Regions from separate parts of the Homo sapiens genome. Here regions 2, 3, 4 and 5 are each linked to region 1. The links come from fine-mapping of genetic effects on gene expression. A gene starts in region 1. Each other region holds a variant in brackets. All regions are shown on one strand. Distances are between the middles of the regions.

Evidence for each region. PIP is the estimated chance that this variant, and not a neighbour inherited with it, causes the effect. A credible set is the group of variants that fine-mapping cannot tell apart.
Region 2: its variant is the best candidate, but not a certain one, in a credible set for the expression of PPP2R2D in Th1/17 cells (Schmiedel 2018, PIP 0.68).
Region 3: its variant is the best candidate, but not a certain one, in a credible set for the expression of PPP2R2D in whole blood (Lepik 2017, PIP 0.69).
Region 4: its variant is the best candidate, but not a certain one, in a credible set for the expression of PPP2R2D in whole blood (INTERVAL, PIP 0.71).
Region 5: its variant is the best candidate, but not a certain one, in a credible set for the expression of PPP2R2D in vagina (GTEx, PIP 0.54).

Annotation. Positions count from the first base shown.
Region 1 is chr10:131,897,951-131,904,076 of GRCh38, reverse strand. PPP2R2D (protein phosphatase 2 regulatory subunit Bdelta) reads right to left here and starts at 3,069. Exons shown (of 9, transcript NM_018461.5): 1 at 2,922-3,069; 2 at 2,747-2,839. The coding sequence starts at 2,928. RefSeq lists silencers at 2,260-2,309, 2,490-2,889, 2,960-3,469 and an enhancer at 3,710-3,809.
Region 2 is chr10:131,939,313-131,945,438 of GRCh38, reverse strand. PPP2R2D (protein phosphatase 2 regulatory subunit Bdelta) reads right to left here. Exons shown (of 9, transcript NM_018461.5): 4 at 5,243-5,408; 5 at 4,745-4,857; 6 at 1,294-1,471; 7 at 1-144. Among named protein-coding and RNA genes, the nearest start is that of BNIP3, 40 kb to the left of the region's middle. RefSeq lists an enhancer at 1-484. The variant C/T (reference allele first, on the strand shown) is at 3,347.
Region 3 is chr10:131,993,096-131,999,221 of GRCh38, reverse strand. It overlaps LOC124902525 (a long non-coding RNA gene), which reads right to left and starts at 2,881. Exons shown (of 2, transcript XR_007062339.1): 1 at 2,851-2,881. RefSeq lists an enhancer at 2,206-3,192. The variant T/C (reference allele first, on the strand shown) is at 2,697.
Region 4 is chr10:131,931,088-131,937,213 of GRCh38, reverse strand. PPP2R2D (protein phosphatase 2 regulatory subunit Bdelta) reads right to left here. Exons shown (of 9, transcript NM_018461.5): 3 at 2,659-2,756. Among named protein-coding and RNA genes, the nearest start is that of PPP2R2D, 33 kb to the right of the region's middle. RefSeq lists an enhancer at 1,654-2,853. The variant T/C (reference allele first, on the strand shown) is at 2,597.
Region 5 is chr10:131,953,817-131,959,942 of GRCh38, reverse strand. PPP2R2D (protein phosphatase 2 regulatory subunit Bdelta) reads right to left here. Exons shown (of 9, transcript NM_018461.5): 9 at 109-4,259. The coding sequence ends at 3,980. Among named protein-coding and RNA genes, the nearest start is that of BNIP3, 25 kb to the left of the region's middle. The variant T/C (reference allele first, on the strand shown) is at 3,218.

The sequences.
Region 1 (6,126 bases):
CGGCCCTGCCACGCCTGGCTAATTTTTGTATTTTTAGTAGAGATGGGGTTTCGCCATATTGGCCAGGCTAGTCTCAAACTCCTGACCTCAAGTGATCCACCCGCCTCAGCCTCCCAGAGTGCTGGGGTTACAGGTGTGAGTCACCGTACCCAGCCACCCATCTCTTATCTCTCACCAACATCTCTCCCTCAAGGTTGCGTTTGGGCATGACCAGCTTCTTGATCCTTGCTGCTCAGCAATCCCTGGTGACTAACGACTACACTTCCCTTCATCATCACTGACTCTCTGGTGTTAATACAAAGCAACGGTATCACAACTATGGGACAAATCGATGGTGACTTATAAATGTGTTAATCTGGATGGGTTACTATGGCCAAAGCATACATGGATTAAAATAGACAGCTCTGAATACACAGAATAACCAAAACACATGCAGATAATTACCACAAAGCAATGTTACAAAAGAAACCACGACAACTCGAAATACCAAACTTTTGGATTTACTCAAAATTTAACTTAAAATAGGGATTTAAAACTGCAAAAAGTTCCCATCAGTTTAATTCAGAGAACAAAGTATTTGTCAAGATTTTTTTTTTTTTTTTTTTTTTTTGAGATGGAGCCTTGTTCTATTGTCCAGGCTGGAGGGCAATGGCACGATCTCCACTCACTGCAACCTCCACCACCCGGGTTCAAGTGATTCTCCTGCCTCAGCCTCCCAGGTAGCTGGGATTACATGCATGTGCCACCACGCCCGGCTAACTTCTGTATTTTTAGCAGAGACGGGGTTTCACTGTGTTGGCCAGGCTGGTCTCAAACTCCTGACCTCAAGTGATCTGTCCACCTTGGCCTCCCAAAGTGCTGGAATTATAGGCATGAGCCACAACACCCGGCCCAAGATTTTTTTTAAAGAAAGAATACTATTTTCATATGTGTACAGTCACATTTAAAATATACTACCTTAGTTATACTTAAATTTTAATTCATTCAGCTTATCAATAATTTTTTTTTTTTTAAGTAAAGAAACCAGGCAGGTGCGGTGGCTCACGCCTATAATCTCAGCACCTTGGGAGACTGACGTGGGCAGACCACTTGAGCCCAGGAGTTCAAGACCAGCCTGGGCAACATGGCGAAATCCCCTACAACAATACAAAAATTAGCCTGGTGTGGTGGTGCACGCGTGTGTGTGGTCCTAGCTACTTCAGAGACTGAGGTGGGCGAATCGCTTGAGCCTAGGAGGCAGAGGTTGCAGTGAGCCCAGATCGCACCACTGCACTCCATCCAGCCTGGGCTACAAAGTGAGACCCTGTCTCCAAAAAACAAAATAAAGAGTTAACAGAAATTAAGGCAAGCATTAAGCCCTCTCACTTTCCTACTCCCAAACAAGTTTTGCTTTACTTGCGACAGAAATCACACTTGAGTAAGGCTGAACTGTCACTTGCTTAGCATATGCAAAATCAAACAAAAAAAGTAATGCATTTTAAAGAAATAAAATCAATAAACTTTTTAGATCACATAAAATGCACCTAGTTTTAATCTCAAACCATATATATTACGCATTTCTTAGAGCCCAGTTTCACCTGCTTAATAACCTAGGCCCTGTTTGTCCCAGGGGGCGCAGAATCTCCAGATGTCCTCAGGGGTCATGTGCCAAACCAGACACTGCCAGGGAGAGGTACAGGGTAGGGAAGAGGGAGTAAAAGTTCACGGGGTTGGGGGGGCCGAGATGGAGGGAAGTGAACAGGACGTCTGACAAGGGGCTTTTAGTAACTTGAGGCAGGGAAGGTGTATTTGGTGCAAACACCAATCATTTTTAAGAAAAGGTTAAAGGTTTACAATGTTCAGTAAGATGTATGAACAACAACAAAAAAGTCACTATGACTCTGAATCTGAAATATTAATCAAACTTCTAAGACTCGACCAAGTTCTCCATTCAACGGTGAAAAAGGAAAGCTACATAGCTTTTTAACTTTAAGGTGACAGGTAAGCTTCATGGGAAGCTGGGGTGGGAGGCACTTCCCAGTTCCCTCCCACCACCCTAAAACTTTGTGCCTGGGCCAATTTGAGAGTATGATTTAAGGAAAAGACCAGTGAACTTCAAGTAATACCATGAAGTTCAAGACTAAAATCTGGAATAGAGACCTTAAAATATATCAGTAGAGAAAGTAGCAGTACCTCACAGTAAAATTCAAGGATTTTAGAACCGCAGAAAGCAGACCTTAAGAATCAGGGAGCCGAGGCAACCAGCTCGCTCAAGAGCGCACCGCCGATGAAACGCAGAGCCTGGTGGGGGCCGAGGCCCCGACCCAGCCCTAGGCGCGTTCCCAGCCTCTGGGCCATTGTGCCGCGCTGCCCGAGCGCACGATATGGACTCCGTTCCCGTCCCCGGCTCCGCCGCGGTCTCCTCAGTTCCGCCCCAGGCAGGAGGCAGCCCCGGGCTTCGGTTCCGCCCCGGGCAGGAGGCAGCCCCAGGCGCTGGGTTCGGAGGACCCGGCCGCCCGTGACCTTGGTGACTTACATAAGTCCCGCCGCGGGCCCGACGCCTCCGCCCGTGCCCCGCGGGCCGGGACAGCGGACAGAGGACGGCCGCCCCCCGATCACGGCCCCCAGCTCGGCCCCTGGCCCCTGCCCCGCCCGGCCCCCATCCTCCTGCCTGCCTTCCACGGACGCTTGGGGCCCGGAGGCCGCGCGCGGCCGGGCTGGGAGCTGTCCGCGAGGGTCCCGGGGCGGGGCGCGGCGCGGGGCTCACCTTCGGCCACGTCCTCGTCGATGGCCCCCTTGACCTGCGAGAAGCACCACTGGAAGTCGTTGCCGCCCGCGGGGCAGCCGCCGCCTCCGGCTCCTGCAAACACAACGGGGCGGTCAGGCCGGCCGCGGCCCCCGCCCGCCCCCGTGGTCCCCGCCGGCCCGCGCAGACCCCTCACCTGCCATGGCAGCCGGCGGCGGGACGGGCGGGGACCGCGGCAGACCAGGGAGACGGCCTCCGCGCCGCTGCAGCCGAGCGCTCAGCCCCGGGGCCGCCACCACCGCCGGCGCCGCCGCCGCCGCCGCCGCCGCCGGGGAGGGATTTTTTTCCCTTTTCAAAATGGCGCCCAATGCCCGTCGCCCCGCTCGATGACGTCATCGCCCTCCGCCTCCTCGGACGGGCAGCGGACGGGGCGGGCCGCGGGGGCTGCCGGGGGCGCCCAATGCGCCTGCGCCCGGCGCCGCTCGGCTGTAGGGGGGAAGGGACGCCTGGGCGACTGCGGAGGGAAGCCGGGGTCGCCGGGCGCAGGCCAGCTCCTCGGCCCTCGGCCCTAGGCCTCCCGCAGTGGTCCGGTGTGCACCCGGCGCTCCCCAGAAGACTAGCGCCGCCGGCCGCCCCTACTCTCCGGGGACTCCCGGAGAGCCTAAGCTGCGGCCGGACACGCCTTCAGGGCGCCGCTTGGCCGGACACGCCCCCATCCCGCATCGGCCAATGGAAACGTGGGTTCTCCGTGGAACCGCCAATGGAGGACGCGCTTGGCGGCGGTGGGCGGGCATGTGGGCCGGCCTCACCTGAGCGCGCCGTACCTGAGCGCTGCCTCCCGCCCACTGCCCCCGACGCGGAGTCTCGCTCTGTTCCCCGGGCTGGAGTGCGGGGGCGCGATCTCGACTCCCTAAAAGCCTCGACCTCCTGGGCTCAATCCATCCTACTGCTTCAGCCTCGGAAGTAGCTGCGAGCACAGGCACGCGCCGCCAGGCTCGCTGATTTTTAAATTTTTTGTAGAGACGGGGGTCTATGTTGCTCAGGCTGGTCTCGAACTCCTGGGCTCGAGCCATCTGCCGGCCTCGGTCTCCCAATCCTGTCCACCTCCCTTTCGGAGCGCACCGTTGCTCACCAGATGGCTACCTTAGGGGTTCTTGGAGCTCCCAGTGCAGTCTTAGGGAAACAGGGCCGATCGTTTCATTTGCGGGTGGTTTTCTCTGGCATACTGAGCGATCATGGGTGCTCCTCGACTTACAGTGGGGCTACCCTCCCCGCAAATAAGCCCTTCCTAAGTCAAAAATGCATCTAATACCCAATCTACCCGTCGTAAAGTTGAAAAATCTGAAGTCGAGCTATCATCAGGGGGACTGTCCCTATGGGATTGATGTCCGGAATCAGAACTTCTTTCAGGGTAGCTGCGGTGGGCACTGATGGTATTGCACCACTAAAAGACAGTCGCTGCAAATCAGGAACATTCGTCCACTCCATTAATATTATTTATTGACAGCTCCTGCCACGTGCGGCACACTCCACAGCCCTGGGGGTGAGAGGTTAACAGAGCAGAGAAATCTCAGCCCTGGTAGAGCTTACCTTTCAGTGGGGGAGACAGACAATAAGGAAATAAATACATAATAAGTCGGAGCTGGAGAGAAAAATCAGGGAAGAAGGAAATGTGTATGGGGAGAGTTGGAGTCTTGCACGGGGTGACTGGAGAAGACTCAAGGATAAAGAGCAAACCATGCAGACGTCTAGGAAAGCTTGGCCAGGAAGGGGAGACCACCAAGTGCCAGGACAGGAAGGAGGGCCATGCCTGGCATGGGCAGGAGGCAGCCAGAAGCTGCGTGGGTGCAGAGTGAGTGGAGGGGAGGCCAGGGGTTGGAGTCAAGGCAGGGAGGTAAGTGGAGGAGGATGGACAGTGGGCAGGCCATTTAGGGGACTTGGACTCTGAATGAGATGGGCTCATGAACAGAAGACGATCGTGATGGACTTGGGCTTTTGGATGCTCTGCTGAGAATAGCTTGTGGGGACCCAAAGAGGGGAAGCAGGGAGACCAATCAGGTGGCCAGCTGGGCTGACCAGGCATGGGGATGAGGATAGAGTGGTGAACATGGGGTGGGGTGGTGAGAACCAGTCAGATTTCAGAGAAAAGTGCTTCGACAGCAGAGCCCCTGGGATTTGCTGATGGAAAAGATGCGGTGTGAGAGAAAGCAGGGACTTAGGAATGCCTGCTCTCGGGTGGTCTGAGCACCTGGAAGGATGGAGTTTCTGCAGCAGAAGGCACAGCTGGGTGGGGGCGGTGCAGCCCGACCAGAGGTTCGCTGTCAACACATAGTGCTGTTGCACAGACAGGCTGGGAGCACACAGGGAAGTCAGAGCCAGAGCATCAAGGTGAGAGCATTTAGAGGTCATTTCAAGTCAGGAAACTGGGTGAGGTCACCTCAGGAGGGAGGACAGATGGGGGACAGGACCAAGGACAGAGCCCTGAAGGGGTGAGGACGTGGAGGATGAGTGAGCAGCCTGCGAGGTGGGCTCCTGGAGAACCCATCTCCAGGATCCACTGAAGACAGGAGGGAGTGGCTGCTCTGTGATGCTATGTGATGAGTATACAGGAGTGACCATTTGGTTGTAGGGACTGGGAGGCCATTACTGACTTGGACGGAGCGGTGGCTATGGAATGGACTCAGATCACAAGTTTGCAGAGGGCTCTGGGGACAGTGGCAGGAGAGGAACTAGAGGCAGTGAATACCTACTTCTCTGTTGAGGAGAAGAAGAGCAGAAAAATGGGGCTGTAATCTTGTTTTTAAAATGTAGATTTAGCCTATCTGCCCAGGAAGACACTTGAAAACCTGAATTAATGACCAGATCTCTTTTATTTGTTAACTTAAAAACCTGACAATTTATAAATTTAGAAAAAGAGGAACTTTATTTCTTATAAATGGTTACAGCCAGCAAGGTGGCCATCCCCCAGGCCAAGATGGGAGATGGCTCTTCGTAGGAGGAGGAGTTGGGGCAGGAGCTCTATGCTGAACGGGTTGGCTAAACATACATAGACAACAGGCTTTGGGAGGAGCTATGAATACTCAGGAAGGGGCTCCTGACACGTGTATTATGTAACATAGGACCCAATCTCACTCTGTCGGGGAGACTAAACATTTGAATATATTACGACTGTAATCCCAGCACTTTGGGAGGCCAAGTCTGGCAGGTTACCTGAGGTCAGGAGTTCGAGATCAGCCTGGCTAACATGGCGAAACCCCCTGTCTACTAAAAATACAAAAATTAGCTGGGCGTGGTGGCGCCCGTATGTCTGTAGTCCTAGCTACTTGGGAGGCTGAGACAGGAGAATCCCTCCAACCTGGGAAGCAGAGGTTGCAGTGAGCCGAGATCGTGCCGTTACACTC
Region 2 (6,126 bases), 41 kb before region 1:
GGGCCGAGGAGCGCATGTCACACAGGCGGATGGTCCCTTTGCTACTGCTGTAGACGAACACGTTGCACTGGTGCGGGTGGAACTCGGCTGCAGTGATGACTTCGGTCAGCTCCTCCATGTTAGCAGGCTTGATGTCCACGATGTCTGGGAGTGCATGGTTAAGGCACAGTGCTCAGCTCAGCTGGTTGTTAATTAGTCTACATTCAGTCACGCGAAATAGGACGCCAAATAATCCACGCAGTGAGGTTTAAGGGATTAGCTATTAAGAAGGCTGGTTACACATCCCGAATTCCAAAGGAGCGCCTGGTAAGGGGATTGGGATGAGCACACTCAGACTACAGCAACGCCCCGGCCCAGGGGGAGACACAGACAAGCGAACACCGCTTTCATCTTGCTGCTATTATTAATGTTATACAGAAAGCCCTTAATAGCAAGATAGTACATACTTAATCATATAAATAGGAAAACCAAGCTAGTACCATCTGTGCAAAATCCCACACTCCCACACAAAACTACAACACAAGAATGCCGCCAAATTCCAAAAGATGCTGCTCTTCCTGACATGAAGAGCTTATTCTGTGTAGCTAGAACAGATCCAACAGAAATCCTATACAGAAATCCTTCAACTGAAAAAAATAAGAAAGGGCAGAATTCAGCTGTGGGCCAATTCAGACTAGCAGTCCCAGTTTCACCCTTCAAGCTGAAACAACTAAGAAAACCAACATACGACATGGAACCCCAGCTCAAGCCACTGGACAGCAGAGGGAGGACGGCAGGGACCCTGGAGAGGCTGCAGACGAAGCAAGCCCCATGCTCCCGGCTGCTGGCTGGAAAGGGGCCCATGTGAGGAGGGCTGGGGCCACCCAGACTGTGCACAGCCACAGAAGAACACAGGTTCTAACTGGAAGCTGCTGCTCAGATGGGTGATTAAACACTGCTCTAACCTAAGCCAGTATTTTCTATTATTCATTAGCAAATTTAGAAAAAAAAAAAGAACACATAATGTTGGTTTTTCAAATGTAGCCTATTTAAAACTGCCTCTGATTAAACCAGGCAGGCAGTGGACTTCAGGTAATTCCCATTATACAGATAACTTTTTCCCAAAGGTAGAAAGAAATTTGTATTTTTAGGGACAAACATTTCAAATCACAGAGAACTTACATCACAGGCTGCTGTGCAGTGATGGTATTTACAAGACTAGACTCCGAGATACAGGTGTATAAAGGGACGAGAGAAATTACTATCTAAAGAGCACCCTCGGGAAGACGCCAGTGTCCCTCTGAGGAAGGATACTAAAGCTTCTATCTGTGATTTCTAAGTGCCATAAATTAATTCTCAGGTCATCTGCAGAAAGATATGTTTCATGATCACTATTTACTGAAATGGAATTTATATGATATGTGTGAGCATTTGCAAAAATTCGCCGTGGACTCGCTTCTACCATAAGATCCATGGGCTTCAATATTGGGACCTAAAAATGGAAGGAAATAGGAATTCAAAACAAAGATCACAGCAGCACATAATTAGAACACTTATAGTAGATAACGAAAGAGGACAAGTTTATATTCATGGCTAAGTAATAATTCTGTACAGGCAATACCCCCAAATAACCAATTAGCAGAGTTATGAAAATATGCTACAAAATGGAATACTGTCTATTCCAAGTCTTCCCCTTGCTTCCATTACCGAGGTCGACATGTTCCTGCTGAAGAGAAGATCAGCTGGCAGGGTAACAAACTGCCCAGGCACCGAGGCCTGCGGCTCCCTCTCCTGTGTGTCCTCCAGTGGCCACACTGAGGCGCTGGACAGCAAAGTCCTCCTGGGTGGCTCAGCTGCACCCCTCCCTTTGTCCTCTCCTTGCAGCTAGATGCACACACCTCTTCTCACTGCACTAGGACTATGCTTCTCGGTGCAAACCCCACAAACCTCCACTGGCTCCAGGTACTGGCAGGGTGCACAGCAGGGTGCTGGGGAGCTGAGGATATTCCATTTCTTGGTCTGGGGCTGGCTACATGGGCATGTGCACCCTACAAACATTCATGGAGCTGGTCACTTATAGGGCAGATGTCTTATCTGGAGGTATGTATTATATATTACACTTCACTTGAGGTTAAAACAAAAAGTAGAAGGTACCTCCCGCCCCCATCTCTGTGTTGAGTGCTGTGGTCAGGGAGGCTTCCTAGGGAAGCCCAATTCGCACAGAAATAGAAAGGACAGAGAGGAGTGGGCGCTGGCTGCAGGCCGCCTATGGTCAGAGGTGAGAGCTCAGGCGTGAGGAATAGCATCACACATGAAAAAAGGAAAAAGGCCTGTGTCTCACTAACATCCAGCTGGAAGAAAAACATAAGCTTTAAAATCAAAACAAAAAATTAATGATAGTATTTTTTGTTATTCTTGTAATTAGAAACCAAAAGGGAGAGCCTTGAAAGCTTAGGGGAAAAAGAAAAGCTCTCAACTGAGTCTTGTCTGGCTGAATTCTGTAAAAAACCAACTTGGAAAAGTGTGTGTAGGGAGGCTTCCCTCATTTTAACCCAGGTAGTGCTGACCACACCCTTGGATTCTCTAGAGCAAGAAGAGTCAGTTCTACCAAGTTCAGGCTTAAAAACACACACCTACCCCAATCCTCTAACAAATTTCCCATTAATCAAAACATATGATAGCTGCAATACTTACAAAGATTCCTTCTTTTATTGAAAACATTTTAATTTGCATATAAAATAATTTGCTTTCATTTTTAGAGATGGGGTCTGGCTATGTTGCCCAGGCTGGTCTTTGAACTCCTGGGCTCAAGTGATCCTCCCATCTCGGTCTCCCAAAGTGCTGGGATTACAGGTATGAGCCACCATACCTGGCCAAGATTTCTTCTTTTAATTATATCCCTTTTCTGGCACTAAAATAATTTAAGAGCAAAAATTTAAAAACAGCAACATGTCTGACTCTTACCCAGTTAGGCTCAGATACATAAATAGCCCACTCTGAACTGTTAGAGAGGTAAGATCTCAAATACCGACCTAAGTCAATGTACAGAATTACCTGTCTGTGGTCTCTTCCCCATGCACCAACTAATGAAATAACTAGACTTCTCACACACCTTCAGTAGGGCCACCAATTATACCCGTTTTATTTAGGCTAAACCTACAAAAGCAGCCTTGAATAAAACCAAGACTGGGCCTAGTAAAGGCCTACTGTTCTCCCAAAATGAGCACGTGAGCTGATGGGTTGTGGCAGGGTCTGATCAGGAGGAACAGGGGTTTCTGAGGGTGGGGTGTGCACAGGTAACTGGGTGGGAGGTGGTGTTGGCTGCAGAAGAGATGGACAAGGCTGGAGGGGGTCAAGTGCCCACCCT[C/T]GGGGGTCCCATCACACTTCTACTTTAGGATCAGCAGTTTCATGATGATGGAACTGCACAACTCGTGTTACTGTCACTAAAAGTGATTTACACTAATTCAGGGGTGCAAAGGCGGCAGCACTGTGTATCAGACATCACCAACATTTTGGATCAAAACATCTTGGTTCAAATTAGGACCCTATAAACTAGATTTTCAGCAAATGCCACAGCCTTTCTCGCTTTGATGAACTCATAGGAAATACGGTGACAACATCGATGTGAGAAGTCTGAGGACACTCCTCCTGAGGAATGCACAACCCCAGGTGTAGCCACCCCACACGGCAAAGCTGGAGAAATGGCATCAGAACAGACCCAACATCACTCCCAGAGGCACATGTGTTAGGGAAAGGCTTCTGCGGTACAGCGTCCTCTGTAGCACTCTCCAAGACTAATGTGGAATGGGCTCACTCACTCAGTCTTCACTTGATAAACAATAGTGTAAAAGGGGCTGAAATCTCATTAAAAACCAACCAAACCACCCAACTCAACCACCCACCCCCCGCAACCAAACCACCCAACCACCCAAACAACCAACGGTTTTCCAATCTAGTAACGGCACCCCCTTGGGACCAGGCAGAGTTTCCTTCCAGGGGACACACCTCTGCACAGGTGCTGGTTTCTCACCAAGACACACCTGGGCTCGAGCCCAGTTTGCCGGACACCCTTCACCATGTTCCATCTAATTTAAGACAACATCAGTGGTGCGTAGCACCAGGCCAATTATAAGACATTGAGGTTTTGAGTTTTAGCCGGTTTCATAAATGTTAAAATATGAAAAAATTTAGGCATCAGAATTGATGAAATATGATCATTTCATACTACCAACAATGGAGCAAATAATTTAACAATTAAAAAAGTAATGATGCTCATGGATGGACAGGTGGAGAGTTCTGAACCATCAGCATCTGCCTAAACCAACCCCAAAGAAATTCCCCGAGAAGCGTCCTGAATGTACCTGTGGCCCACAGCTCATCTTTCGACCTGCAACCTGTGCTACTGCACCTGTGAGGTGTTCTGAATTTCATCTGAACTCCAACCTCCCAGGTGCTGTTCTGAACCTTCTGAGAGAAGGGTGGTTGCTATGTCCACAAAGATTTCTGCTGTAGAATTAAATATGAGTTTTCCCCTTAGTATTGCTGTGTTTCCTAAGGACCACATGTGACTTTCTGCCTTTGTGAAAACAGGAGAAAGACCTTGCTTTTAAACACACACATGAGTGCAAACGACTTTCAGGAATCACGAGGCAGACCTCACAGCAGACCTCACAGTACTCCACCGCGCAGCACTCTCCAGACAGCAGACTGAAACGTTTATTCTTAACTTCTCAACAGCATTGGATAAAGCAAAGGCAACGTGTACCCGTAGCGCCGTGATCCTAAATGGGTCTCGAAGTCTTCCATCTTCGTCTTTCAGGTTATAACCTTCTGCTCTTTTATCCCGTTCACTTATTTTCCATAATTTTATAGTTTTATCTGAAAATAAAAACCTCATTCTCCATATGAAAAGAAAAACTATAACATGCATCACTACTGTTTGAGTACTGGTATTAGAAAGCGGTGTGGTCCTATATTGGGTTATAAGCTATGGGGTCTCTGAACATGAATATTTCCAATTGGAGGTGTTTTGTACAATAAAGAAAGATGTGCAGACGTGCAGAGTAACAGCATAATAAAGTGCACGTGTGGTTTTTGTTGCATACTTTGAATTTTCAACCTATCACTTGCTACCCTAGATAACTTACCCTCCCCCCAAAATTTAAAGCAGGAATAACTTCTAAAATAAAAAGGAATCTACACACACACAGAAAATTAAAAATAAAAAACTAAATCAAACAGCCACTTAGAACACAATTCTTACCATTTGTAGACAGTAGAAAATGAGCAGCATTCTGTTGTGGTAACCACCTAATTTTATTAATTTTTTCCTCAATTTCTAGACTTTTCAAATAGTCAAACTCCGGTTCATGACTTTGAAAGGTGCTGTAAACATTATATTCTCCCCTAGAATGAGGGCGGCTTTTATTCTGCAAGGAAACATGAGAGCTGTTTTAATGAACAAAGCACAGTGTAGAGAAAATTTCAGTACTATAAATTTGAATATCAAATGACCATACATATTTTTTAAAGCTAAAAAATCCTGGCTCAAAAAAATCTCAGATGAAACTCAGGGAAAAAAAAAAAAAAAAGAACGAACTTGATTTCCGACTCTTCGACTCCACTTCTAGGTATGCATCTGGAGCAGGTCTGCCGAATGCAGCCTTGCTGTATTTTCTGGAGCAGGTCTGTCAAATGCAGCCTGCCGTATTTTCTGAAGCAGGCCTGCCGAATGCAGCCTGCCGTATTTTCTGGAGCAGGTCTGCCGAATTCAGCCTGTCGAATGTAGCCTGCTGTGTTTTCTGGAGCAGGTCTGCTGAATGCAGCCTGCCGTATTTTCTGAAGCAGGTCTGCCAAACGCAGCCTGCCGTGTTCTCTGGAGCAGGTCTGCCAAATACAGCCTGCCGTATTTTCTGGAGCAGGTCTGCCGAATGCAGCCTGCCGTGTTTTCTGGAGCAGGTCTGCCGAATGCAGCCTGCCGTGTTTTCTGGAGCAGGTCTGCCGAATGCAGCCTGCCGTGTTTTCTGGAGCAGGTCTGCCGAATGCAGCCTGCCGTGTTTTCTGGAGCAGGTCTGCCGAATGCAGCCTGCCGTGTTTTCTGGAGCAGGTCTGCCGAATGCAGCCTGCCGTGTTTTCTGGAGCAGGTCT
Region 3 (6,126 bases), 95 kb before region 1:
GCCTGTTTCCGAGTCCCAGTTCATGTGGCCATGGACTATCTGAGCCTCAGTCCCCTCCTGTGCGAGATAAGGAAAGCACACCTCCCCTCGCTGGCTATTAGGAGGTAACAACACAGGGCAGGAGTGTCAGGCACAGGCACCACCCACCAAGCACTGTAATTTGCCAGGCACCAAATGCAGTGCCCTCGTGAACTCACGGAATCATGGCAGCCTCAGAGGGCAGTGCTGTTGTGGTCACCCTCATTTTAAAGATGGGGACCTTCACAGAGGTGAGTCGCTTCTCCAAGTGACACAGCTTCTTAGTAGCAGAGCCCAGATACCAGCCCTAGCTGTCCCCTGCTTTCTGCTCCCCTGCTATCTGCAGACTCTCCCACTGCCACCTCACACAGTGGCAAAAGCCTGTGTTCTCTTCTCTACTCCCTGCTGACCTTTCCCCATCGCCACCACGTGTCAGCAAAACTGTGGACTTGTGCTTTGAAAGAGACAGAGCCGGGTGTAGCGGCTCATGCCTGTAATACCAACATTTCGGGAGGCCTAGGTGGGAGGATCACTTGAGGCCAGGAGTTTGAGATCAGCCTGGGCAATATAGTGAGAACTTGTTTCTACAAAAAATAAAAAATTAGCCAGGCCTGGTGGCACATGCCTGCAGTCCCAGCTCCTTGGGAAGCTGAGAAGAGGGGATCCCTTGAGCCCAGGAGGTCAGGGCTGCAGTGACCTGTGATTGCACCACTGCGCTCCAGCCTAGGAGACAGAGCAAGACCCTGTCTCTAAAAACTAAAAATAAAAAAATGAAAGAGACAGGGTCCACGGGACAGACGAGTGTTAGGCATGTTGGTCCCATGTCAGTGTGCAGTGAAATTGACAGGAGGCACTGGCTTTGGGCAGGGCTCCCGCACTAAGCCCAACAGACCAAACCCAAACAGGGTTGTTTGCGCTGAGTTTCCACACCACCAAGAGAAAATTGTTTGAGCTTCTAAGAAATCAGGAGAGAAGGAGATCGTAGCCAAATCCCCAAACAGGCCAGTTTCAGCTAGCACAGTAGGGAAGCCCTCTGCTTAAACCTTTAACTGTGAAAAGACCAATCAGCTTTCTGTTCTGGTTTCTGCTTTCCTCGGCCCTTTTCTCTATTTTATCGAACGAGGTGTTGCCCATTCTAGAAGAGCAAACGCAAGCCAATGAAGGCCTCTAAACTAGATCTGCTGTAACTCTGTCTTCTGACACTACCTTGACTGGTTATTCCAGCCAGAACATTCTGCAATCTCTCACGGAGGAGCAACGGAGCTATTGCTTCATGTACCCAAGGACAAATAAACACGCCCGCCCAGCACTGCTGGGATTCCGGCCTGGGGGATCACGTCTAGCCTCCGGCAGGAATGTGACTTGAATCTAGTGGCTGCTTCCTGTTTTGAAGGTTTTCCAGCAAGCAGTCCAGCCTCTTTTCAAAGATCACCCTCTGCTTTCCACTCACCAGCAAAGTACAAGTACACACTCGAGACATGTTTGTGTGCACACTGTTTACAATGCGGAATATTTCATCATACCAACTCCTAACAATAGCCCCAGCATAGTACAAATATCATTGTGAATTCATAGAAAAGTGTTTTCCTGCAAGAGGGAGGGAGACAGATCAGTCTGCAGGCGCACAGCTGGGTGCCACAGAGGTGGAAGAATTACCCCTCCAGCGCCCGCCCCCTGATGGTCCCCTGTGCATATAGTGTCACTGATGTTTGAAGGTAACAGAAGAATTACATTCATTTGAATAAGCCCCCACCCACTTTTGCAGCTTTGCGAGTTATTAATAGAAGAGAAACAAATCACTTGTATTGTTCCTTCCCCCAGTGTTCTTCCCCACCCCACACCCACCACCGGGTGAAAATCTGGCCCCGTTTTCATGCCCATTTTCGATTTGGTCTCACTGAAGTAATTTTTGTGTCCTGGCCGGTGTAACCATCAAAACTCCCAACTTTACTCTGAGTTGAAATGCCTCCTGCTCCAGCCTGGGCTCTGCCCACTTCCTCTCCAGTTGTAGCTCCTGACCCTCTGGGGACAGCCCAAAGGCCAGCGGCAAGGGCCGGGGGTCTTTGCTGCCTACACACTGCTTGGGCTCCCAGGTGACCAAAGCTGACTGTCCCTCTTGGGCCACTTTTTCGGGGTCTGGAGTCTCTCTGCCTTCGGGTGAATACTTCCAGCCTCCTTCAGTTTCACTCTTCCAGGTCCCCACTTCAGGCAGATTCTAGACAAGCCCAGCCCCACTCCCCTTCACATGGGGTCCCCCTGGGTCCCAGAAGCCAGGTCCTTGACCTGCCTGCAAAGGTGCAGCTTCCCGCTCTGCTCAGCAACCTTTCATTTAGAGGGGCAGGCAGTGTGATCCCAGCTCTGCCCTCTCTGTGTGCCAGGACACGAGGACATGTTTGGGTGGTACCAGGCTGGGGAAATGTAGCAGTCAACAAGTGTCCACTTGAGCTGGTGGCCATGAATTTAAAATGAAACCAATCCACATGGCTGTGTCTCCTCTCTTTCCACTCCTGGCAGCTTGGGTGCAGGCCCGGTGCCCAGCTGGGCTTGGCCAACTGGGTGAGAGGGACAAGGCAGCTGAGGGTGCACTCCAGGGAATGAGCAGATGGAGCTGGACTAAGGCGTGAGGAGCTACAGGCAGCGAGGGGCCGTGGAGGGGAAGCAGGCAGGACCGAGACCCC[T/C]GAGCTGCCAGTTCCCAGCAGTGAGCACAGCCGGAGAGGAGGAAGGGCTTCATTGCTTCAGCATGACGTCCCTGCGGCTGCTAAGGCTGCGCGTCTTTTCAGTTCATTGGCCATTTCTCTGTTTTCATGAGGTGCCAGTTCTTTTTCGACTTACCAGATTGTACTGCTGGGGCCGGGTATGGTGGCTCACGCCTGTCATCCCAGTGCTTTGGGAGGCTGAGGCAGGTGGATCACTTGGCTCAGGAGTTTGAGACCAGCCTGGGCAAAATGGTGGGACCCTGTCTCTACAAAAAAAAAAAAAGAAAGAAAGAAAGAAAAAAAAATTAGCTGGGCACAGAGGGGTGCACCTGTAGTCCCAACTACTCAGGTAGCTGAGGTGGGATGGCTGCTTGAGCCCAGGAGAACGAGGTTGCAGTGAGCTGAGATCACACCACTGCATTCCAGCCTGGGCGACAGAACCAGACCCTGTCTCAAAAACAAACAAAAAAAAAGATTGTGTTGTTTGTACATTTACTGTGATTTTTAGATCCATTTGCATATTCCGTTACTAATCCTTTGCCTATTATGTGGGTGGTGGATATCTTTTCAGTTCAGTCATGGAGTGAATGTACAAAAATCCATTTTACCTCAATAAAACGGATGCGCCACTCTGTAAAAAAAGAACAGTATAATTCCTGCCTGCATGAGTCCTGGACAGTGTTAAACGGGTCATTCAATGGCAAGTGCTCAGAACATTGTGGGGCCCAGATAAGGCAAAGGAGAAGCTGAGCTGTCTTTATGATCACCGTTATGATCAGTTTTGTCCTTTAAGAACACGCTATGTCTTATAATCCTTAGTAATGGCTTCTTTTTCTGTTTTTAGAGAAGACCCGGTCAGCTTGGGTGCAGTCCTGGGTAGGATCTGGGGGCCCTGAATAGTGTCTGTTATATTTTAACATAAAGTTTTATGATTTTCTTTGTACGTGTCTTGAGTCTTGAACATTTTTCTTTTTTTGAGACAGGGGTCTCACTCTCTCACTCTGTTGCCCAGGCTGGAGTGCAGTGGTACGATCTTGGCTCACTGCAGCCTCGACCTCCCAGGCTCAGGTGATCCTCTGACCTCGGCCTCCAGGTAGCTGGGACCACAGGCACCTGCCACTATGCCCACCTAATTTTTTGTATAGATGAGTTTTTGCCACGTTGCCTAGGCTGGTCTCGAACTCCTGGCCTCAAGGGATCTTCCCACCTCAGCCTCCCAAATCTTTTTTTAAAATTAAAAAAACTTTTATTTTTTACTTTTTTAAGAGATGAGGTCTCTTTATATTGTCCAGGCTGGTTTCAAACTCCTGGGCTTAAGAGATCCTCCCACTTCAGCCTCCTGAGTAACTGGGATGACAGGCACAAGCCTTTCCTTGAACATTTCTTCTTAAATTTATTCTTAGATTTTGTTGTTGTTGCTCTTACAAATGAGGTGGTGTTCATCTCTAAAATGGTCATCACCAGCATATAAGAAAGCTACTGATTTATACATGCTCACCTCTCAACACATACTTTATTGCATTCTTATTTGTCAAATAGTTTTTCAGTTGATTTTCTTGGATTTTTTAGGTGAACAATTTTACTATTCTTTGTGAATTTATATTCAGCAAATGTTAACAGAATACCTGCTATATACCAGGCATGGTTCTAGGTGCTCAATGTACAGCAGTGACCCTAAAAGACAAGGATCCATACCCTCATGGAGCTTACATACGGTGGGGATGATAGTGGGCAATAGAGACAGTGTGTCTGTTTGGTATTTGAAAAACTTCATTTCTCCATCCTGCCTTAGGGCATGGCCTAAGCCCCTCAGAACACAGCTGAGTAGCAGGGGTGCTGATGACAGCCACTGGCCTGCTGCCCACTGAAATGGAAATGCCACTCATATTTCACAGCCAAGCACGGTGCTCACGATGGACTTCTGGTAAACATGCTTTATCAGGAAAGCTTCTGAGTTGCAAGTAATAGAGACCAGCTCTGGCTGATGGAATTGGAAAACACCTTTGCTGACAGTGTTGGAGGGCTCACAGGTGGCTGGGAGGGCCCAGATTTGAGAACTGGGCAGGAACAAAGAGCAGCCACATGGCCAGGACAGCAGAGTCAGCCAGTCCTGCAGGTAAACCATGGCCATCGAGGTGGAGCATGAAGCACAAGCACTACCCCTTCTATGCTGGCACCAGGGGTGGCTCACGCCTATAATCCCAGCACTCCAGAAGGCCTAGATCGGCAGATCACTTGCGCCCAGGAGTTCAAGAGTAGCCTGGGCAACATGGGGAAATCCCAGGTCTAAAAAAAATACAAAATTTAGCTGGATGGGGTGACATGCACTTGTATTTCCAGCTACTTGGGAGGCTGAGGTGGGAGGATTGCTTGAGCCCGGGAGGTCAAGGCTGCAGTGAGCCAGCTGTGACTGTGCCACTGCACTCCAGCCTGGATGACAGAGTGAAGCCCTGTCTCAAAAAAAAATTTCCCCTGGAGCCTCTGGAGGGAGTGCAGCCCTGCTGGCACCTTGGTTTCTGCCCAGTGAAACTGATGTTGAACTTCTGGCCTCAAGAACTGTGAGAGAATAACTTTGTGGTAATTTGTTATAGCAGCTACAGAAAACTAATATACTAGGACACAAGAAGCATGAACTATTAAGGAAATCAATAAATTGGACTTTGTAAAAATTGAAAACTTTGTTTTTCCAAAGACACTTATGAAAAGGCAAACCATAGACTAGGTGTAAATATTTGCAAACACATATCTGACAGAAGGACTTGTATCCAGAATAAACACAGAACTCAGAACTAAATAACACAACCCAGTTAAAAACTAGGCGAAAGATTTGAACTGACACTTCACTAAGGAAGATATACAAATGGCAAGCAAAGTTTGTGGGTTTATGAAAAGATGTCACGATAGGGAAATGCAAGTTAAAATCACGAGACGGCAGCACACACCCATTAGAATGGCTACAATTAAAAAGCCCGGCTAAACCACAGTTGGCGTGGGTGTTCAGCCACTGGCACTCTCCTGCTGCTGGGAAAGTAACATGTGCGAGCACTTTGGAGAACACGATGGCAGCTCCTTAAAAAGCTAAGCACACCCTCCCCATACGACCCAGCCGCTGCACTCCATGGCATTTACCTGCAAGAAATGAAAGAACATGTCGATACAAACGCTGGCACATGAATGTGAACGTTCCCAGCAGCTCGATTTGCCAGCGGCAAGAACTGAAAACATCCCAAATGTCCAACAGGTGAACAGTAAACAAATGGTGGCACATCCATACAACGGATGCTGCTCAGCCATAAAGAGGAACCGACTACTGATGAATGCATGCATCACCGACGAATCCCAAAGTCATTACACTGAGTGGAAGCAGCCAGATGAGGAACCTTTTGGAGATAACGGGCATGTTCATTATCCT
Region 4 (6,126 bases), 33 kb before region 1:
TTCTGCACAGCCAGAGCTTCCCAACGGGCCTCTATGGACCTGACTCCTGAATCTCAGGCCCTGCACCTTCCACAATCTGGTGCTCACTCACTAGCCTTCCGAATCCTCCACGCTCCTTCGATTCTAAGACGCACACGTGGACGCCTGTGAACCTTGCTGCAGCTTCTAACTGGGAGCTGGGGTCGCTTGATGGGCAGCAGCTTCACCCTCTTGGCGGCTGCAACACCATCCGCGGCCTCCGGCCATGGATGAACACGTGCACTGCCGCCCTTACCCACAGACACACTCAAGTCCACAGGGAAGGGCACATGGGGCAACCAGCCGAATGCTCTAAAATGGATGGACCGTGAAAGCCTTTCAGACGTGAACCGAAATACGAAGAAAAAGAAAAAAGGCTGCCTGGGGTTTGTCAAGTTGCAGCTGGCTGAACAACTTCAGTAGGGACTTGCTCCTGTATAAATCTGTCACTCACATAACAACTTCATCTTAAAAAAGCACTTAACACTCTATAATACCCAATATCTTTTAGAACGAGATGCTTGACTTTTATCAGGGTTTGTTTTATATTTGAGACTATTATTATTTAGGTTAAGCAACGATTCACAAAAACAAGAGAAATTCCATTTTCTAACCTAAAATCTGTTAGGCAGGGATGAGGCATCTTCCCTAAGGCTATCGCTACAATGACAGACTTTTTAAATAAGCTAAAAGTGAAGTCTTGCATTAAGATAGCCATGACTCAACAATTTGTTAAAAAATCCTCCTGCTGGCCAGGCGTGGTGGCCCATGCCTGTAATCCCAGCACTTTGGGAGGCCGAGGTGGGCGGATCACCTGAGGTCAGGAGTTCAAGACCAACCTGGCCAACGGTGAAACCCCATCGCTACTAAAATACAAAAATTAGCTGGTCGTGGTGGTGCATGCCTGTAATCCCAGCGACTTGGGAGGCTGAGTCAGGGCGAACCACTTAAACCCGGGAGACAGAGGTTGCAGTGAGCCAAGATCACGCCATTGCACTCCAGCCCAGGTGACAGAGCAAGACTCCATCTCAAAAAAACAAAAACTCCTCCTGCTTTAAAAGTAACATTTAAACACCACAACCCACTTTTACTTCTGTTGAGAAAGGTAAGGTGTATGGTTCTTTTTTTTTTTGAGATGAAGTCTCACTCTTGTTGCCCAGGCTGGAGTGCAATGGCACGATCTTGGCTCACCGCAACCTCTGCCTCCTGGGTTCAAGCGATTCTCCTGCCTCAGCCTCCCAAGTAGCTGGGATTACAGGCATGTGCCACCACACCCGGCTAATTTTGTATTTTTCGTAGAGACAGGGTTTCTCCATGTTGGTCAGGCTAGTCTTGAACTTCCGACCTCAGGTGATCAGCCCACCTCGGCCTCCCAAATTGCTGGGATTACAGGCGTGAGCCACTGCGCCTGGCCAAGGTATATGGTTCTTAAGTAGCATTGTGTGATATTCTACTTCTGAGATAAAAATGCAAAATTATAAATGTATCAAACTGTGAAGAAATATTAACGATATACTTATTATTCACAAAAGGATTTCTTACCATCCCAAATCAGAGAAAACAGGATTTAAAAAAATCTTTAACTACCTGGACATAATCAAAATAAAGCTGCAACAGGTATGTTTTGATAATGAAATTGGTTAGCACCTGTCAATTTTCCTCATGTGGCCCAGGGACAGTCCTCCTCCAGGCTCCCCTTCCTGGGGGGCAGGGCCAGCACTTCCTGTGTACAGATCTGCAGAGAGGGGAACCAGGGCCCACCAACCTCTAAACCAAAGTTCGTCACACAAATTTAGAGACCAGACTTTGGAGATGATAAACTGTCCCTTTCATCTGTTAGGAAACTCAGAGACAGGAAGGGCAAGGGACTGTATTTATAAGGAAAAGGCAGGACAAATATTTCAGACCCCAGGCTTAGCTGCACAGAGCCAGGGTTCTTGCCAGGAATCCTTGACTACCAAATCATGATCTTGCTTCCTTTATCACTGCTCATTAGGACCTCTGAGGAGGCTCAACAGAAAGAAGAGGGAGGGGGCTGGCAAGGCATCAGTGAAAAGGCAGTGCCGTGACCGGGAAGCCAGTGCTTGCTTATGAGCTGTGGGCTCCTCCAAGGCCCACACTCTGAAGGTTCCCTTCCCTCCAGACAGGTGAAGCCTTCAAGGGGGCATGGAGGAGTGAGTGCTGCTCACCTCTCCCTGAAGGGAAGAGAGAATTCACACCCCTGCCAGACTTCTCTGCAGGAAGTGCTGAGAAAGCTGCTCACACTTCATGGCAGGGCAGGACGGCGGGGCTGGGCCAGTACCTGCATAGGCGTATAAAGGGATTTTCAGAGAGAGCCGCGTGAGTTCTTATGGAATGAAAGCACATAAATGCACCTCACCACCACCCTGCATCCTTCATGGGGTCCCCAGCGGAATCTCCTCCCTACTCTGAAGACAAAGGCCTTGGAGACTTCACCGGGGCTCAGCAGCTGAGGCCAGAACTTAGATAATTTCTGAAAGGAGATTCTGTATGGCTAATGTGATGGAACTGAATCTTAATGAAATGAGACAATGAGAAAATAATTTTGCTTCCTCCC[T/C]TCTAAGTTATATGCGAAAGGTTGAATAATTGCATTTGATTTGTGGACTGAAAATTACTGACCTCTTGTTCACGCTGAAAAATAACAACTCTGCCGCCCTTGTCTCCTGTTGCAAGAAGATCTCCAGAGTAATTAAACTCAACGGTGGAAATGATGTCCGCTGTCAACAAAATACAGAAGCGATTTACCGGATGCGGTTTTGGGGAGGAGTCACAATACCAAAAAATTAATAAAAAAGAGCAAAAGGACGATAAACATATACAACTTTCTCCGAGACTAAAGCAAAACTGTCTTGGCAAACTTGTAATTACCAAGTGGCCACTTATTGGTTCTGGTGCAGAGAACCTGCCGGCACAGGTGAATGGGCGAGTTTTACTCCACCCCCATGCCTGGGCCCCTGGAGCACCAGGATTTATCTAGACTAGGTTGTCTTGATAAAAGGATAAAGGGTAGAAATTTAGAAAATTCATCTGTAAAAGAAAAAAATAGAGGAAAAAAATGGGTCCTGAAGAATGTTGCCTAATTTTATAATGCATACCTAATGTTAACTTTTAAAATAAATCTGATTCTTATATAATAGTAATAAAAATGTTGTTAATATTCTATGCAATAACTTTTGTTGGCTTCTGTACAATGTAATATTCTAGACAGTAGAAGTTCCATGTCATTGTCTGGATACAGTTACCACCACTGATAATGATGACATCATTACCAAGTGAGACAACTGTCAGGGAGGCCTTGAGATCTCTGACAGCATAACAAAGACCCCAGACACCAGCTCAACAGAGGCCAAGACCCCGGGGCAGAAGGAACACCACCACTAAGCAGTGAGAAAGTCCTCAGGTGTCCTGAGGCTAACCCTTCGGGTTGGGAAGGGAGTGTCTGGATTTATGACCAACTATTAAATTAAAAAAAAAAAATCCCAGGTCTGTGACTTGGACAAAGATTTTCTGTTTTCAGGGGGAGTTCCATGACAGACTCTGGAGGAGGCTGGCTTCTCCGCAGTGCTGCTGTGTCGCGTGCGGACTGAGGATAAGGCCTGGCGTGGCCTCCCGAGGGGCCATCAGAGCTTGTCCTATGGCCACAGTGGGACTCCTCGCCTTACCCTGCAGTGTGGGGGAGTCTCAGGAACAGCTAGAACACTACAAGCTCGCCTCCCTGCTGGGCACCAACTCAAGGGCTCGCAGTGACCTGGGCACACCCAGGGCCCACGGTACGTTTATAGTAGGAAGTAAAAAAACAACTAAATGGCTATTGTAAACAACCTACTAAGAAGAAATGGGCCCTAAAGCTGAAGTGACTCAAACAGCTCCCTCCAAAAGTGGCTAGAATGCAATTCTGACAGGTCTGCAAAGGCGTTTTAATCGTGTTAGTGAAGGATTTCCACCAACATCTACACAGCAAGCTCCCGCGGCTGGCACTGTTCGCTGGCCTCACACGGGAATCCCTGGCCTGGGAGTTCTTTCTTTTCAAAATCTTCAGACTTTGGAAGAAGGATTAGGTTGTTTCTTAGAAGCGTCACTATTAAATTACTGAAAATAACCTAACTTGCTTAAATGAAACTAAAATATTATGTATTGGATTAAAAAGGTCTAAATCTATGTCATTTATACCCAGAGGGTGTATAAAATTACATAATTAATTGTATTCTAGCTCTGTCAGTGATTTTCAAACTTAATTATAATGGACTGAGTCTTTTAAAAGAGAAACTCCTGTAACTGTCGGTGCTGGGAAGTTTCATTAAGCTACACAAACACGCGTGAACCTAAAATTAGAAACACTGCAGTGCTCAATCTCTAAACCCAAACTAAATACACAAAATTACAAAACCAACAACGTTTAAATTATCAACATCAAATTAATCTGATGGAGACAGTTTTTAAAAACCAGACTGATGCTGAAGGCATAAATATGGTACTAAAGGCACCAAGTTAGGTTTTTTTTGTGTGTTTTTTTTTTTTTTTTTTTTTTGAGACAGGCTGGAGTACAGTGGCGCGATCTTGGCTCACCGCAACCTCCATCTCCAGGGTGCAAGTGATTCTCATGTCTCAGCCTCCTGCGTCGCCGGGATTACAGGCGTGCACCACCACACCCAGCTAATTTTTGTATTTTTAGTAGAGACAGGGTTTTGCCATGTTGACCAGAATTGTCTCGAATTCCTGGCCTCACGTCATCAGCCCGCTTCAGTCTCAAGTGATCAACTTGCCTCAGCTTCCCAAAGTGAGTTAGGTATTTTAAACTACCATAAACTTCACCATGGCTGCGTTCTGCCTCCATTTCCCTGCTGGGGTAGGGGAGTGCTTCTGCCCACGGTACAGCCTGGCACCTCCTGGCCATCCCATGGAGACATCGGGTCTCTTCTCAGCCAGACAGGCCCCACTGCCATGTCACACTCCACCTGCCGTGGCACTGCTGCCAGCTGGCTGTCTGGCTGTGCAATCCTCATTCAACATCCGGGTCCCATCAAATCCGCAAAGTGTCCGCAGCCACCCCGAGTCCTCTCAGACCTCCCGCCGAACATGGTGGGCCATGCGTGTGTGTTCATCTCCTTTACCCTCCCACCCCCGCCCAGGTGTCAGAAGAAAGCAGAAAAAGCATCTATGTGAGCAGCTTTAACAAACGTGGGGGCAGCAAGGGGCTGGCACAGAGATGCAGAAAGTCTTCACAGAGCTGCTTGGTCCCCAGGTCGCCCCCCATTCACCCTGCCAGGTGGGAGCACACAGTTTCTTGTTCCTCAGACACTGGCTACCGGCCGCCATCCCCAGGGGTGCCCTCCGAAATACTCCAGCCCTGGGGAAAGGGCCTCAATATTCAAACATTTGGGTTTTACAAGGACATGGCCAACCACAGTGAAGCTGCCAGCTGAAAAGCCCAGGCCCACAGAAACAGCAGCCTCGCTACACTCAGAAATAGAAACCAACAGCCACGACCTGCAGAGCCTCAAGAAGTCACCAAAACAAAGATGGGTGGGGCCAGGCGCAGTGGCTCATGCCTGTAATCCCAGCACTTTGGGAGGCCAAGGCGGGTGGATCACCTGAGGTCAGGAGTTCGAGACCAGCCTGGCCAACATGGCAAAGCCCCATCTCTACTAAAAATACAAAAATCAGCTAGGCATGGTGGTGTGTATCTATAATCACAGCTACTCGGGAGGCTGAGGCAGGAGAATCGCTTGAACCAGGGAGGTGGGGATTGCAGGAAGCTGAGATCACGCCACTGCACTCCAGCCTGGGCAACAAAGCAAGATTCCATCTCAGTAAAAAATAACAAAAAAACAAAAACAAGGATGGAATCTGAACAAAGAGAGACGGGAAAGCCCGAATCATGTTCTGGAGATCTGCTGACTACTACCAGCCGCTACAGTACCAGGGTTTGGCTGAATGCTTACTAGGAGCCAGGTGCTATCCTAACCACGCACAAGCCCTGTACTAACGTAGCCAGGCCTCTAAGAGCCCCAGGAAGCAGGGCTATCATCATCCCCGCCTGATGGAGGGGAGAGGAGAGGGATGCTGGACGTGGGACCCTGCGTGCTC
Region 5 (6,126 bases), 56 kb before region 1:
CCTGGGCTGCACCTTCTGCTCTGCCCTGGGGGTGGAGGAGGTGGGCTATTTAGTGGGAAATACATTCTAGAGGAAGATGGAAAAGGGTGTCCAAATACGCAGTGAAAATCCAGTTAAACATTTAAAATTTATTGAACTTTTTGGTCAAAATAGTTGAACAAATATATACAATCCCATTTTACTAGAACTGTCTTAAGGACCAGGGTTGACTAATGCTTAAATAACTGTTCCACACCTCAGACTTTGTAAATTGTGTCACAATCAATATACAGTATATAAATTATTTTTTAGTTAAAATAAAGGTACCTTTAGATTCTCAATTTCTAACTTAATGTGAACTCAAGTGGCACTGTGTTAGCATTGATTCAGGGTAATGACGGACATCCTGTTCTTGCCCATGTGGATTAGTAATCAGCACACACCTTCACCTCCACAGGGGGATGGGGGATCAACACACACCTTCATCTCCACAGGGGGACCGGGGATCAGCACACGCCTTCATCTCCACAGGGGGATGGGGGATCAGCACACACCTTCATCTCCACAGTGGGATGGCGGATCAGCACACGCCTTCATCTCCACAGGGGGATGGGGGATGAGCACACGCCTTCATCTCCACAGGGGGATGGCGGATCAGCACACGCCTTCATCTCCACAGGGGGACGGCGGATCAGCACACGCCTTCATCTCCACAGGGGGACGGGGGATCAGCACACGCCTTCATCTCCACAGGAGGACGGGGGATCAGCACACACCTTCATCTCCACAGGGGGACCGGGGATCAGCACACACCTTCATCTCCACAGGGGGATGGGGGATCAGCACACACCTTCATCTCCACAGTGGGATGGCGGATCAGCACACGCCTTCATCTCCACAGGGGGATGGGGGATGAGCACACGCCTTCATCTCCACAGGGGGATGGGGGATCAGCACACGCCTTCATCTCCACAGTGGGATGGCGGATCAGCACACGCCTTCATCTCCACAGGGGGATGGGGGATCAGCACACACCTTTATCTCCACAGGGGGATGGGGGATCAGCACACGCCTTCATCTCCACAGTGGGATGGCGGATCAGCACACGCCTTCATCTCCACAGGGGGATGGGGGATCAGCACACGCCTCCATCTCCACAGGGGGACGGGGGATCAGCACACACCTCCATCTCCACAGGGGGACGGGGGACCAGCACACACCTCCATCTCCACAGGGGCACGAGGAAGCAGCACACACCTTCATCTCCACAGGAGGACGGGGGATCAGCACACATCTTCATCTCCACAGGGGGATGGGGGATCAGCACACACCTCCATCTCCACAGGGGGACAAGAGATCAGCACACACCTTCATCCCCACAGGGGGACAGGGGATCAGCATACCCCTTCATCTCCACAGGGGGATGGGGGATCAGCACACACCTTCATCTCCACAGGGGGACGGGGGATCAGCATACCCCTTCATCTCCACAGGGGGATGGGGGATCAGCACACACCTTCATCCCCACAGGGGGATGGGGGATCAGCACACACCTCCATCTCCACAGGGGCATGAGGAATCAGCACACACCTTCATCTCCACAGGAAGACGGGGGATCAGCACACCCCTTCATCTCCACAGGGGGATGGGGGATCAGCACACACCTTCATCTCCACAGGGGGACGGGGGATCAGCAGTACACACCTTCATCTAGATAGGGGAACAGGGGATCAGTACACACCTCTATCTCCACAGGGGCACGAGGGATCAGCACACACCTCCATCTCCACAGGGCATGGGGGATCAGCACACCCCTTCATCTCCACAGGGGGACGGGGATCAGCACACACCTTCATCTCCACAGGGGGACGGGGGATCAACACACCCCTTCATCTCCACATGGGGATGGGGGATCAGCACACACCTTCATCTCCACAGGGGGACGGGGGATCAGCACACGCCTCCATGTCCACAGGGGCACGGGGGATCAGCACACCCCTTCATCTTCACAGGGAGATGGGGGATCAGCACACACCTTCATCTCCACAGGGGGACGGGGATCAGCACACACCATCTCCACAGGGGGACAGGGGATCAACACACCCCTTCATCTCCACATGGGGATGGGGGATCAGCACACACCTTCATCTCCACAGGGGGATGGGGATCAGCACACGCCTCCATCTCCACAGGGGCGCGGGGGATTGGCACACCCCTTCATCTCCACAGGGAGATGGGGGATCAGCACACACCTTCATCTCCACAGGGGGACGGGGGATCAGCACACCCCTTCATCTCCACAGTGGGACAGGGGATCAGCATATCCCTTCATCTCCACAGGGGGATGGGGATCAGCACACACCTTCATCTCCACAGGGAGATGGGGGATCAGCACGCACCTTCATCTCCACAGGGGCACGGGGGATCAGCACACACCTTCATCTCCACAGGGGGACGGGGGATCAGCACACACCTTCATCCAGACAGGGGCATGAGGAATCAGCACACACCTTCATCTAGACAGGGGGATGGGATGGGGGATCAGCACACACCTCCATCTCCACAGGGGCACGAGGGAGCAGCACACACCTCCATCTCCACAGGGCACAGGGGATCAGCACACACCTCCTTCTCCACAGGGGCACAGGCAATCAGCACATACCTTCATCTAGACAGGGTGACGGGCGATCAGCACACACCTCCATCTCCACAGCAGCAGGAGGAATCAACACACACCTTCATCTCCACAGGCGGACGGGGGATCAGCACACACCTCCATCTCCACAGGGGCACGGGAGCCCGACTCCCCACTCCCCTCGGGGACACGTAGTGGGCGTGTGTTAAATCCCACGGAAGCAAGCTCTGGTCACTCAGCATTGGTACAGCTCTGTATTATTTGTCTTGGAAAATCTTGATTTCTGGTATCAAAGATCCTACTTTGAAAATAAACCAACGTACTGGTGGCATCGTGTAATTAAAATTGCTTAATTTTGCTGGCTTGAAATGCAGGATGAAATTTAGCATGCATGTAATTTTAGCAATGTTTAAAAAGTATACTTTCCCCAAAGTGCTTTTTCAAAAGCCTTAGAAAGCAAGCACGTATTTCTTCAACTGTAGTGAATTTGAAGCTACTTTAAACCAGGCTTACTGGATGGCAGCAATTTTGGTTCTTCCTTGCAATTTTCTTTCTCAGAGGTGGCCTCGGTTCTGGCTTTTCCCAGACCTTACCTGGTGTATC[T/C]GATGGGCTACTTCTACAGAAACACAGCGGGCAGCAGCTTGGGGACAGAAATGCTGCACACATACCCCCACGCTGCCAAAGAAGGACACACATTTCTCAAACAGTTAGTTCCAAAGAAGAACCCTGCATAACTTCATTCTATGCAATAAAATTAAATAAAAAGACAATACTTCTGTTTGGATTTAAAAACACTTTATAGTGTGTTGTTTTTATTGAGCGCTCACACCCGAAGGGGTGGCGGCGGATGCTGTGGGTGAGTGGGGCCGCCTGAGCCTGCTCGGGCCACATCCACACATCCACAGAGTCCACCTGGACTCGGAGGAAGGCCGAGAGGACACGGACGGTGGCCACACCACGCTGCAGTGAAGGCCCAAGTGTGATGGCAGAGAAAGAGGGAAAGTTGGAGAAAGAGCGGTATCTGACAATAACTTTTCTCTTGGATGTTAATTTTTTGGTCTATAAATTGGAAAGGAAGGCTCGGACTGAAATAAATACATTTATTCTGAGTAATGACCTTTTGGGAGCAGTGTCCGTCAACTCTGCTTCGAGAGCGTCTCCACGTGAGCAGCAGCGCCTGTCTCGCGCCTCGCCGAGGCGGAACCACACCGGGCCTCCAGCGGAGGCGGCTTTCTCCTGTGTCTGTGAAGGGAAGTAGCAGGTGCGTCACTGTTCTTAATGGAGCGGACAATGATGCCTTTTCTCTGACAGAAAAATGTCCGGCTTAACTATGCAAGACAAGACTTGGTCCTCACGTTCGCGTCTCTAGTTGATTTTGTCCTGGAATATGTACAAGTTATTGGTGGCAGCCACGGCAATGACATTGTCCACGGGGTGCCAGGCTGTGTGCAGGATCTTCTTGTTGAAGTCCAGACTGTCCACACTGATCTCGTCTTTCCTCCGCTTACCCCCCGTACACACCTTCCGGGGTTTGAGGCTGGCGCGCGGTTTGCTGCTCTCTCTCGAGGCCTCCAGGGTCACATCCCTCCGCGTGTCTCTATCAAACATCCTGAAGAAGTTGTTATAGGACCCGGTCATGATGGCGCTGTTCAAAACAAGAGCAGACAGCAGCACTCCTCAGTGGGGGGAGCGGCAGCAAGGACTCAGACCCCACCCCTGGGGTGCACAGCGCACGCCACCCTCCCCCACAACCCAGTTACTTTCAGAAATCAGGAATGATCAATCACAATGGGCAGAAGAGAAATGCAGTGAAAATGTGTACCGAGCTTTATCTATAATCATGTCAGTAAGAATCCATGTCACAGGAGAAACAAAATAATGGAGTCACACTTTTAACATTAGTGTATTTTTTGAAACAACCCCACCTATTTATCTCACTCATGAATAACAGCACAGTTTATTTTTAAGCCTTATGTTCTGCAATTTGTCAATGATCCATAATGACCTGAACATAATCCTTATCATGTTCAACAGTTACTAGTCATATCTGTCAATGTTTCTTTGGAGTTAAACTGCTTTTCTATTAATTTCAAAAAGTTTCTTTCAAATGAGGCAACGGATAGAAATAGTAAAAATCCACTGGGCAAAGTGTGGCAGAATTTTAGAACAACTGCATTTCACACACATTCCAGACAATACAATACCGTCCATGCTTTTGTTTCTTCAAGATCAACTGTAATGGCTTTCAAATGTCTCTGCTGTCGAAAAATTCTACTACCGCACACATCCTCATGATATAACTTCATAATACTGGTAAAAACCTCTGCAATCTTACATTTTCTACAAAAATGACAGAAAAATAGCTGAATGATGCAAACGCTGCCATGATTTGACCCATGGCTTCATGAGTCCAGTTTCTGATGAAAGATGTGTTCAAACAATGCCCTTCTGGTTTCTCCAGCCGTCCTTGAAGCTCGCCTCCTCTTCCTATTTTGACACTAACCCGCGCCCTCACGTCCTGCCCCCATGGTCATGCGCGGTGAGAGGCCTTTCACGCTGGCGCGTCTTCAAGGTGCCATGAGAAAGAAGCGGGCCGCTTCCCTTCCATGGCCCAGCACTGACCCTGGCTGCTGGCAAATACCTAGTGTCTGACTGACCTTGTCTAAAACTTCAAAGCAGGGGAAAAAAAAAAAAAAAAGACGAACTCAGAGAAGAGAAACTGCATTCAGCGATCCATGTTTATTTCCCATCTCCTGCTTCCATCCAGGAGCCCACAGCGCCACAGAGGCGGGAGACACAAGGTGTGCCCAGCGCCCTCCAGCAATGCCAAGCTGTGCACGTGGTCTTGGAACAGGGGTATGCAGCCAAGTTGGCACGTGAGGGCCATTGACTGGGGGTTCCCCAAATTAGTTTCCACATAAAACACAATGTTTACGAAAGGGTAAGTAATAAGAATGTGTGAATCTGAAGCTTACATTTATGTTATTAAAACTCAACAGTAACCATTATTCAGAACACAGACGACAGATGATGTATGGCCGACACTGACTGGAATTGCTGGTGCATGGTAATAACGAAAAGCACATCAGCTTTCATACAGATTTATGATCACTTTTAAATTCTCGACAGATAGTGCCAGCCCCAGAGTGGGTGTTTCCACACTGCAAACAAGGGCGCTGCCCAGCAGCCTGGTGCTGGCCCAGGAAGGGAACAGCACAGACAGAGACACAGGCGTAAGCACATAACTGGTTCTGTGGGGCGACCTAGAACACAAGAAGGCGCTGCCACACGGAGAATCAGGATTGGGCTGAGGCAGCACTGAAACGCCTCACTCCCCTTCATCGCATCCCTCAACAGAAGTTTCCAGGTAGGAAGACTGGCGTGTTTTTGAGAGTGAATGGACTAAGCAAATGTTACTGGGAACGCTTTTAGATGTTCTTGGGGATATGTAATCTAAGGGTATTTTGCAATATTTGAAATATATCAAGAGGAATAAAAAATACAGTGACTAT